3 linked regions of the Homo sapiens genome follow. The protein of the gene in region 1 purifies or fractionates together with the protein of each later gene. This does not show direct contact. Each region holds a gene or a part of one and is shown on either strand. Other genes may lie near its edges.

Region 1 (3,746 bases):
CACTCAGCAATGAATTGTGGTCGCCGTTCCATGCCAGCACTCAGTCATTTTTATGGCTGCTTAGAATACTATCGTCTTGATTTCTCTCAATTTAATTATTCAGTTGCCCCCTGAGGTCTCTATTGATGGAGATACACACACACACACACACACACACACACATATCTTATATATTATATAATATATAATATAAATAATAAAACCAAATTTCCATTCAGTGAGCCAGTGCAATCCCGGCTCACTGAAGCCTCAGCCTCCTAGGCTCTGGGGATCCTCCCACTTCAGCCTTCCTGGTAGCTGGAACTACAGACACATGCCACCATAGCTGGCTAATTTTTTAATTTTTCTAGAGATGGGGGTCTCACTGTGTTGCCCAGGCTGGTCTCAAACTCCTGGACTCAAGCGATCCTCTTGCCTCAGCCTCTCAAAATGCTCAGTTACAGGTATGAGCTACCATGCCTGGTCCACATTTGGTAATGAGATGCCATCTACTCCCTCGCAAGAGCTAGAATGGACTTGCATCTTCAGAGTTTCAAAATGCCAGGACTTATAATAGTAACAATAACTTTTGATGATGATAATAATAACCAAGAGTAATATATAGTGTGCTTTTCTTTATTTTATTTTATATTTTTTTCGAGACAGAGTCTTCCTCTGTCACCCAGGCTGGAGTGCAGTGGCATGATCTAGGCTCACTGCAACCTCTGCCTCCCAGGTTCAAGCGATTCTCCTGCCTCAGCCTCCTGAGTAGCTAGGATTACAGATGCCCACCATCACACCTGGCTAATTTTTTTTTGTATTTTTAGTAGAGATGAGGTTTCACCATGTTGGCCAGGCTGGTCTTGAACGCCTGACCTCAAGTGATCCACCTGCCTTGGCCTCCCAATGTGTTGGGATTACAGGAGTGAACTACCGCGCTTGGCCTGTAGTGTGCTTTTCAAAAACATGATCTTACTCAATTATATCACAGAATACCACAATTAATAAAAGGTCCCCCAAATAAATATAGTTAAACTCATATATGAATTTTTAAAAAGAATAGAAGAAAAAGGATGGGCTGTGGAGCTAAGCTGGGTAAGGAGAGAGAGTAGATGGGGGTGACCGGCAGTGGCATTGCCCTGGGTGCAGTGGGTTGAAAGTCGCAGTGATGAGAACTGACGGAAAGGCTGGAAACTGAATGGAGAGTGGGGCCCTTGAAACTGAGATTATGGAGGGGCAGACAATTTTCGATGAAGCCGGCCTGCACGGCGTGACGTGTTGGTGTGTGGCCGGGAAGGTATAGAGAGGTGGAGAGAGGAGGTCGCAGAACTGAGCGGCCAAGAAGTGGGAAGGGTCCTCTAGGCGGACATTGGAATCACCAGGTATTCTGATAGGGCCCGTGTCAGAGTGACCAGGAGCCAGGAGCTCCTCCCCGACTAGCATTGATGCTGGCTACAGACAGCCACTGCCAGTGCCCACCTTGGAATCTTTTTCATCCTGGCCTCCACTCTGCCTCTAACTCTCTAAGAAGGTACAAGGGAGGCAGACGGTCCCCTTCTCTAGCAGAGAACCCAGCTCTCCCAGAGCAGGACACCCCTGAAACCATCGAGTGTCCGCTGCACTGGCCTCGCAGGTCACGGTGAACACATCCCTGGAATCCCTACTTGTTGGAACTCTGAATACACAGCAGGCTTTGGGCCCACTCTGGGACCTACCGAGGAAGTGGTTTCCCCCCGGAAGTGGAGGGAAGCCATTAAACTCTCTACCTGTTAAAATGCCCACCTGCTAAGGAGGATTGGTACTTACCAAGATGTAACATTCCTCCAGTAGCGAGCGAGCGTTTCCTGAGCTTGGAGCCTGAAATGAGGTGCTCAGGACAGACAGTGCCTGTGCCTTGGAAGTGTGATGTCAGGGTAGGGACTCTTCTCCCCATTGCACGCAGGACATAGCAGAGGCTCAGAGGTTGCGTGGTTTGCTTGATGACTCACAGCAGGAAATGCAGAGTGGAGATTCACACCCAGGCTGTTGTGACTGGGGTCTGAGCTTTCTCACGCGTATGTCTCATCCCTCCCTAAGCCTGGAGCTTCTTGAGGACAGGGACGGATTCAGATCTGGTGTCCTTTCAGCAGTTAGTGTGTCCCCCTGCCCAGAATCAGTACTCAATAAATGATGATGGGGCCGGGCACAGTGACGCACTCCTGTAATCCCAGCACTTTGGGAGGCTCAGATCGGAGGATGGCTTAAGCCTGGGAGGTGGAGGCTGCAGTGAGCTGTGATTGTACCATTGCACTCCAGCCTGGGTGACAAAGCAAGACCCTGACTCAAAACAAACAAACAAACAAAAAAGTGATGATTGGCGACTCAGCCCTTCTTTCCTCTTGCCTCTCCTCTTGGGACCCTTCGTCGCTACTTCAGACCCTCCAGTACCCTCACGCGGCCCTTGGCCCTTCCTACCACTGTAGAGACCAGTTCCTCTTGAAGATATTGTGGGTTGTGTTATCTAATTGACTATGAAGAGAGCTGGAGCCAGGGGTTCTACCCAAAGTGACGTCTCCTTCCCCTCCTGGGCCTTCTAGGAAGAAAGCTGACCATACACAGACAACTGTGGAGGAGGGGCGGTTCTGTGCCAGGAGCTCCTTTTGGGAGCCCCTTAACTCTCGCCCAGGGGGACCTGCCTCGCGTAAGGCGGGCGGTGGTCATCATGGGGCTGGCAGAGGGCTGGTGCAATGTTCGGGACAGCTTAACCCTCTTCCTCCCCTGTTGCCCTAGATCATCCTGAACTTCACGTCCCTGGACCTGTACCGCAGCCGCCTGTGCTGGTACGACTATGTGGAGGTCCGAGATGGCTTCTGGAGGAAGGCGCCCCTCCGAGGTAACGGCACCAGCCACCCCCTGCCCCCTCCATGCTGATTCCCTCTCTGAGCCACCCTCATCACACTCTTCATCCCCCTCCAGGGCCCAACACTGGCCAGGGATGACAACCTGGTATGGGAGCCAGGAGTCCTGGCATCATTAGTCCCAGATAGCTGCATTACTCACTTGCTGCGAGACTTCAGGCAAGTCCTGTCCTCAATCTGGACTTCAGAGTACCCAGTCCAGACTTCTGGGCCTCCCTGTGAAGTTGGCTGTCACCCTACGGGTGCAAGGAGTCATCAGAATTGACTGAGAGAGACAGACAGGCTGTTCTGCGCATCCCCATGGCCCCAGGCTCTCTTCCTCATCTGGGCACTTTCAGAGGATCCACTATTTTTTTCTATCTGCCCTTCTGGTTTTTGAGTGCCCACAGTGCAGCCTGGCTCAAAAGAGAGTCATCATAACCTGCCAGCCCATCTCCTAACTCACTGCCGAGGGCTGCACACTGGGCGCCGTGGCCCGACCTTGTCTGCATAGGATACTTTGTCCCGAGGAGGGTAGGGGGCAGGAGGTGAGTCAGTGGGAGTAAGTGGGTCAGAAGCACAGAACAGAAGGTGCTTTAATGAACCTAGAATTAGGGCAAAGGGAGGCAGGTGATCCTAGAGGGTATTGCAGCAAGCCCGAGGAGCCGTGTGAATCTCCTCCTAGCTGGACGTGATCGTAAGGAGCTCAGGACCACTCTTTGGCAACAGAACCTCTTCTCCTCAGCCTATGCCTAAAACAGCCAGACGGATATTGCTAACCTCTATTTTCCCCCCAGTTTCCGATATTTAAATATTTCTTTTTGGTCACTCAAAGCAGCTGTCCTTACAACACTTCCTCTCGTAGACGTGTTAGTGTTTTTCCAAGATGGG
Region 2 (3,746 bases), on another chromosome or scaffold:
GGAGAAGGAGAGAGACACTCAGCTAACGCCACTGCCCTCATCTCACCTGCCACAAATAATCTGCATCTTCCCCCAGCTACCAAACCGTCCTTCACATAAATTTCTGTTCAGCCCACAAGCTGAAAAGCCCCCTCAGCCTCTTATTAAAGACCCATTAAATAAGTCCTTCACTTCTTGATCAAAAGGAATCATCGCTGTGACTTCTAAAGTGTAAGAAAACCAAACCTTTAAAAGTACCTGTCCTCAGGGCTTGGGGCAGTAAAAAAAAAAACAATCTAGGTGAAACACCTTCTATAGGAAAATTTATTTTTTTTGAACGAACTTAACCAGGCAAAGCAAGTAACTAGCAACATGTGCACAATTTACTTGGGCAAATGTCGCCCGTTCCTCCTCGGTGTCATCAGAAGGTACACTGGGAGAACAGAAGGGTTGAATTGAGCTGGTTTCCAAGGAACCATGTCAGAGCCGCTGCGGAGTTAAGAGCTGCGTCCACACAGCAGCCAAATCATGAAGTTGCAGGAGCGGCTGTTGTTAACCCACAGCTAAGAATAACGCTCGACTTTCCAAAATAAAACGAAGAAACGAAGTCCCCTGGCCAAGGATTCGGGGCGGCACAGAGGGGAAACGGAGCTTCCTGCACTGCCCTCATCACTCAGAACCTGGGGTCCCAGGCGATTCAGTCACCGCCCACAGAACAGCGCCGCGGGCACCACGTGAGACTCCCGGGGCCGGCTGGGAGCGGGGGACGAGGGGCGCCCACTCGGGGGTCGGCAGTTTGCAGGTGCGATGGGCGGCCCCCTCACCCACGTTTATCCGGACTGGAGCCCGCCGCTCCCGGCTGGGTTTCCGGGTGGTTCGCGCTCCTTCTGAATTGGCAGCGAGGTCGCGGCAGGTTCGAGGTAAATCGGACGAAGAGGGGAAAAAGTCTCAGGGGTCTGGGGGCCTCCGCGCCTCAGGGGAGGCAAGGGCCGGGCCAGAGGCGCGAGGGTGGGTGAGGGATTCCCGCCGCGGGGCCGGGACCGGGGCTCGGGCAGTGGGCCATGCCCCGCGCGCCCACGCGGGCCGCCCTACCGTGGCTCTGCAGGATCTCGTGCTTGAGGCCGCCGGTGTAGTCGATGAGCTCCTCCAGGCCGCGCTCGCACAGCTGCCCGTAGCCTGAGAACTTGTGCAGCACCTTCTCCAGCTCGCGCTCCACCGTCACGCACTGATCCATGCCGGAGGCGGCGGCGCTCGGCTCCTCGGCGCCCAGGTGTCCGCAGCCGTTCGGCCCGGGCCCCACCGAGGCCGCGTCCTGCTCCTCGTTCCCCAAGCGGGCGGCGCGGGAGGCTGAGGCGGCCGAGGCGGCGGGCGCACTAGCCGCGGCGCCGGGGGAGCCCCGCGCAGCCGGAGCCCGCCTGCCCCATGGCGCCCTAGCCCCCCGGCGAGTCGCCGCTGCTCCCGTTCGCTCGCTGCACTCGGCTCCGCGTCCCCAGGCCCCGCTCGCGACGTTCGGGTGCCTGCGACGGCGCGGCCGATTGTTTTTGTTTTCACGGGAACCGACCGATGACCTGGTTCTCCCGGGCGGCACCAAGCGCCGCCGACTGGGGGGAGGGGGATGGCCACCCGGGCGAGGAAAGGAGGCGGCGCGGGCCGTACCAAGTACACCCTCGGGGTGGGGGGTGCGACCCGGCGAGAACGGGCGGAGGAACGCGACGGGCGCCCACACGCGCCGCCACTCTAATGGTGTGGGCCGTACCACACGGAAGGCGTGCGAGGGAGAGGGCGAGGGTGGAGCGAGGCCCCAATTGGCCTGAGGAGCTAAATAGGGAACTTTGGAGACAGCCCCAGCGCTCGGAGAGCGCAACAACTACGCGCTCCATAAACAAGGAGGCGGAAACCGGCCCTCACCACTCCGCCCAGAAGCGGGGAACCCCAACCAATGGGCGCGGGGAGTGGTAAGAAGCCAATCCCTGGCCGAGGCGTAAGCCTTCAGCCAATCCGGGCTGAGGGGCCAAACCAACGGGCTCGCTGTTGGAGGGGGTGACTTGGAGAGCGTACCGAGAAACGAGTAGTTTATGGAAAGCCTTGGGGGAAAACTAGACAAAAATACAAAAGGCTGTTTTCCATAGGACGTCGCCCTGATCCCAATTTATTTCGTCTCCTCATCGATCTTAAGGGAAAGGGGTACCGTCATTCCGAACTTTTGGGCGACGGATCCATCTCCCGGGAATGAAAAACCAAGCCAGGCCGCCCGGGGGCTGGTTCTGCGTCGGCGGGGGGTCCCTAATGGGAATTAAAGGCGGGGGTGATTGGGCCCGGGTGAGGGGAGCCGCTTGCTGCTCGCGAAAGGCCCGCGCCGGCTGTCAGCGCTGCCCCGGGCTTGCGACACCCAGGAGGTCATGTCCCCATCCCCCGCGGACCGTGGCCCTTTGGCCCCTTGGCCTGGAACCTCTCCTGACGGTGGCCTCGCCCCAGAGCCATGTGCCGGGCAGCTTAGCCGGGTGGAAAGAACACGCGCTGGAGAGCCGGGCAGCCTGGCCCTTGCTCCCTAGGAAGCCTTATGCTATCGGATCGGATCGGCTTTACCCCCTCGGGTAAATCCTTCCCATCGCTTGCTATGGCGTCTGCAGCCTTGGCCTAGACCTCCTTGATCAGCATCGGCTGCACTACCTTTGCATTTCTTCAGGAGCCCAGCTAGTTCGTGCCTCAGGGCCTCTGCACTTGCCCTTTCCTTGGCCCAGAAAACTCTTCCTCCTACCTTTTTCATCCTGAAGTTCTTCTCAGCTCACTTGTCCCCTTACAGGGTCCTCCCCTGGCTGACCACACTAATGTACTTCCTCCCCACCGTTAATACCATAACACATTTTATTATTTCCACACCACTTAAACTCTGAAATGATCTGATGTTTTATTTTTCTGTCTGCACCACTTACATAAAACCATGACGGCAGGCCCCCTGCTTGTCTAAATTTTTTGCCTAGAACAGCCCCTGGCGTGAGGTGGTAGGCAATTCTTTTTCTTAAATTAACGTGATAACGTTTTTGAGCCTTAACTTCCGTATAACTGAGAAATAATTGGAATTAATACTTAACTAAATTGTTAGATAAAGGAGAATATATGTAAATACCCATAATAGGCTCATGATAACCACATGATAAAGGTGGTAGTAGTCATTATTAGGGCAGCCCCAACTGGTATTATTTCAGATCTCCCTTCTCCCCACCCCATTTTTCTTCCCTCTTGGCAGATGTCTCTGATTCTTCACTGAGATTAAAAAAAAAAAAAAAATCTAGCTCCAGCAACTTCTATCACTCTTCTCCAAGTATTGCTGTGTACCACCCATTTTGTGAACATTCTCATGTACCCAAAGGACCAGGAGTCCCTTCTCCCTTTCCAAGACAGCCGTTGGGGCCTGCGGGCTGCCTCTCACCCCTGTCCAGATCTTCCCCCTCTTTCTCTGCAGTAGGTTCTTCCTTTCTACTTTCAGCCCAAATGGGTTTGACCTACCTGGGGGAGGAAACTTAATTTAACCCTCCTCAAGCACTCATTTCTTTCACTGCCAAACTGCCTAGACAAATCTATGTTTATTCCTCCCTTTTCTTCAAGGATCTCCTTGATAAGCTCAGTCACCCTTTTCTCAGTCTTTTTTTTTTCTTCTCCTTCAAAGGGTTGTTATAGTATGAAATATTCCATTTAAGGCACTCAACAAAATGCCTGGCACAAGGTAAGAGCCATGATAATCCACTGATCACAAATAATCAATGACT
Region 3 (3,746 bases), on another chromosome or scaffold:
CTAGGTTGTAGTCTTTTCAGGTTATATTTTGTCTGTATTCTCAAGTATCAAGTTTATGAGAGAACCAAACATCTCTAAAAACCTCTTCAGTAAAGCCTTTTCGTATAACAAAATACCCTGATCGATATCCTGTATAGAAGGCAACTGAGGAGCAGGGGCATTCCGGTGACCTCGTAAGGGTCGAATATGCGCGGGAGGGCGAAACCAGAGGCGCATAGCCCCCGGCCGAGCTAATGCCACCCTTCCCACCCGGTGTCCTCCCGCGCCCTCCAGGCCCCTTCCTCCCCTTCAGACCTGCGGGTCCCCAGAGCCGAGGCGCCAGCCTGTCAAAAGATACCGGGAGTCCTCCGCGCCTGGCGCCAGCCTCCAGCCCGCGCCCCTGGGGAGGCCGGGAGCGTTTCCACCACCGTCCTCTGACAAGCTCGCCGCTCGGCCGGGCTCCGAGGCCGCCGGGACGGAGTAGACAGTCGCGCAGGCCAAGCCCCGCCGCGCAGAACCAGTGCGCGCGGAGGCGACGCGGGCAGAGAGGAAGGAGCGCGGCTGCGCTCCCTGCCCGTGGCCAACCCAGCCCGCGCCTCCGCGCGTGTCGCGGGCACCCCGAGTCCCCAGCCCGCAGAGCCCAAGGGCCGCCGAGGCCTCCTCGCCCCTACTCCCTCCTCTACCTTCCCTCACCGGCCGGAAGACGAGGCTCTCCGCCAGGGGGAGCGCGCCGAGGCCCGGGGGTGACCGCCTCGAACATGCTTGCCCCGGGCCCCGGGGACGCTGTTGGTGTTAAAGGGGGCCCACGGGCAATTGCTGCATCCGGGCTAAGAGCTGGGGCTCCGATTCGACTGTTTGAGTAAACGAGTCGGTATCATTAATAATGACAATTGCACAAAAGAAAATAGGAAAGAAACCCCCTTTCCTGGCGCCGAACCAGGCCCGCCTTGGCTCGGAGCCACCGGCTCTTCTGGGTTTTCGGGGCAGCTGGCAAGAGGGAGGCAGGCAGAGGAGGCGGCTCCGGGTCCGACTGCCAAGCTGACCAGGGCGGTGAGCCCGTGACTCCTGGCGGCGGCCCAGACCCGGGTGCTGGCGTGCAGGGGAAGGCGACGGCCGCTGCGCGCTGGTTCCCGGACCCTGCCCAGCGTGGCGTGGAGACCGACGGCCGCACAGGGGTCACCGGTATCCACATGGACACCTCCTAATCGAGCTTTGTTCACCAGAGGGCTAGGCCCTTCTTTCCCTGGCGCTTCTCTTCCCCCCGCGACACAGCTCTTCCCCCTACTCCTTCCCGGGAGAGCGCGCACCCATGCAGTGGCCTCCATCTGGACGCCACGGGGCTCGGAGAGGCGATGACCCCTGGCAGCCCAGGCCGGTATCGAATTAAGTAAAAATTTTGAATGCCCAGGTGGCTGCGCGTAGAGCGGCAGCAGGCCGGGCTGGCGGCGCCCAGGTGCCCAGCGGAGGGCCAGGCGCTCAGAGCGCACAGCCGGCCGCCACCTCGGCCCCTGCCCCCCGCCCCGGGGTACCTCTGGCCTGTCGGGTGGGGTCGGGTCGCTGCGGCCGCGGCGGAACCCGGCTCCGGACCTGGATCACAGCATCCAGCGCGCGGCCGGCGAGGCGCCTCCTGTTACCCTGGGGCCGGCGTCCCTCGTCCCATCGGAGCGAGCGAGGATGCTGCGGTGCCCGGCGACAGGTCGTCGGATAGCATTGACAGCACCTTCCTTTCAAGGTGCTTTATGCCTGCCCTCTCCACGTGCGGAGGGCAGGGTGACCAACGCAAAAACCTGAGCTGCGCCTCCAGACCCGTGCGCCCCTTTGATGGGCATCTGTGGTGTTTATCTGTCCCCCGAAAGCGGTGACCGAGAAGTAAATAAATGGGCGAGAGGTGGTAAAATCCTGGCAGTATTTCCGCTCGTCCTGTCGCGAACTACATATCCCAGGGAGCCCGGGGCGCCGGGACGCGTGTCCACCCCGCCATCCACTTGGAGAAGGCGTTACTGAGCCTGGCCCGACGCACGGGCCAATCCCCTCGCCCTACACCTTGGCTGGAACCTGAGACGGATTCGCTCCCAAATGATGCTCCAGTGGCAGGAGCAACTCAAGTTCATCATTGTCCTGAGAGAGAGGAGCAGCGCGGTTCTCGGCCGGGACAGCAGAACGCCAGGGGACCCTCACCTGGGCGCGCCGGGGCACGGGCTTTGATTGTCCTGGGGTCGCGGAGACCCGCGCGCCTGCCCTGCACGCCGGGCGGCAACCTTTGCAGTCGCGTTGGCTGCTGCGATCGGCCGGCGGGTCCCTGCCGAAGGCTCGGCTGCTTCTGTCCACCTCTTACACTTCTTCATTTATCGGTGGATCATTTCGAGAGTCCGTCTTGTAAATGTTTGGCACTTTGCTACTTTATTGCTTCTTTCTGGCGACAGTTCCAGCACTCGCCGAGACCGGCGGAGAAAGGCAGCTGAGCCCGGAGAAGAGCGAAATATGGGGACCCGGGCTAAAAGCAGACGTCGTCCTTCCCGCCCGCTATTTCTATATTCAGGCAGTGGATACATCAGGGAATAAGTAAGTCGAGAAACGGCTCCTTACCTATTTTGGATGGCGGTTAAATCTGTTTCTCCCTTTAAGATTTTTCTTTCCAAGAACTCGTTTCTCCACAGCAGTTTATATTCCAGGATATTTGGTTACCCATTTTTCTCTGTAGCTGTAGAAATTGTTCCGAATTATAATATATGCAATATAATGTATTGTATATAACATATAAAATAATCTCCTAGCAATTTTGATTCAGATTCCCACATTATCAGGGCAAGACAAAGTCCCTCCACTTTGCTGGAAATACTGTTTCTAACTACTTTTCGCATAAGCTATTATAAGGGATTTAAACCTAGTTGTTAGAGACTTGATGGGCTTCATCTTTCTCTGGTGCGGCCCTCAATTTTCAAGGAGACATCTGCAGGTAAGCATGTTTTGAAACTGAAAAAGAAAAATGAAGTACTATTTGAAACTTCAGAGTTCGGAAGGAAAGTATCGAAGTATTAATCTCCTATATGATTGTAACAAATATTTTGTTCCAATGAATTTAATACTTTAACATCATACTTAAAACTTATTTTTATAATTCCTATACTTCTGAAATGATTGTCTCTATTATTGGTGGATGCTGACTGTGTGTATTTCATACAGAAAAAAATACTGGAATAAAAGGTTGTCAAGTAAAAGGCAGGTTGTAAATTTTGTTATTTGGCAAAAGATGATACACTACCTACTACTTTGCTTTTGCCCATGGCTGAGCGTGAGTTTTTTTTTTTTAAGACAGGGTTTCACTTCCTAGCCTAGTCTGGAGTGCAGTGGTGCAATCACAGCTCACTGTACCCTCAACCTCCCAGGCTGAAGCTATCCTCCCACCTCAGCCTCCCTAGTAGTTGGGACTACAGGCGTGTGCCACCTCGCCTGGCTATTTGTTTTTTATTATTATTATTATTATTTGTAGAGACAGGATCTCACCTTGTTGCCCAGGCTGATCTCGAACTCCTGGCCTCAAGCAGTCTTCCCTCCTTGGCCTCCCAAGATGTTGAGATAGTAGGCATGGGCCACAGTGCCAGGCCTGAGCGTGATTTATAATACTGATATTGTAAAGATTCATTGGCAGAGATTTTTCAAAATAAGATCATTATCTTTGGGAGCATCATTTGATCACAAATATCCAGATGTGATAGCATGAAATAAGTTAGTAAGAATATTTTTCCATATGGAATGCATGAGTATGT

The links.
Region 2: the proteins of BMP1 (region 1) and RMND5A purify together in Homo sapiens (affinity purification with mass spectrometry; 2 studies listed by BioGRID and IntAct, with this or other methods). This does not show direct contact.
Region 3: the proteins of BMP1 (region 1) and POGLUT2 purify together in Homo sapiens (affinity purification with mass spectrometry; 2 studies listed by BioGRID and IntAct, with this or other methods). This does not show direct contact.

Annotation. Positions count from the first base shown.
Region 1 is NC_000008.11:22,189,301-22,193,046, forward strand, and holds part of BMP1 (bone morphogenetic protein 1 isoform 3 precursor), read left to right. Parts: exon of another isoform or gene 1-119; intron 120-1,785; exon of another isoform or gene 1,786-2,295; intron 2,296-2,748; coding exon 2,749-2,851; intron 2,852-3,746. UniProt on the Homo sapiens protein: Metalloprotease that plays key roles in regulating the formation of the extracellular matrix (ECM) via processing of various precursor proteins into mature functional enzymes or structural proteins.
Region 2 is NC_000002.12:86,718,135-86,721,880, reverse strand, and holds the start of RMND5A (E3 ubiquitin-protein transferase RMND5A), read right to left. Parts: upstream 1,591-3,746; 5' UTR 1,214-1,590; coding exon 1,072-1,213; intron 900-1,071; exon of another isoform or gene 759-899; intron 1-758.
Region 3 is NC_000013.11:102,797,284-102,801,029, reverse strand, and holds the start of POGLUT2 (protein O-glucosyltransferase 2 isoform 1 precursor), read left to right. Parts: upstream 1-2,053; 5' UTR 2,054-2,359; coding exon 2,360-2,541; intron 2,542-3,746. UniProt on the Homo sapiens protein: Protein glucosyltransferase that catalyzes the transfer of glucose from UDP-glucose to a serine residue within the consensus sequence peptide C-X-N-T-X-G-S-F-X-C. Can also catalyze the transfer of xylose from UDP-xylose but less efficiently.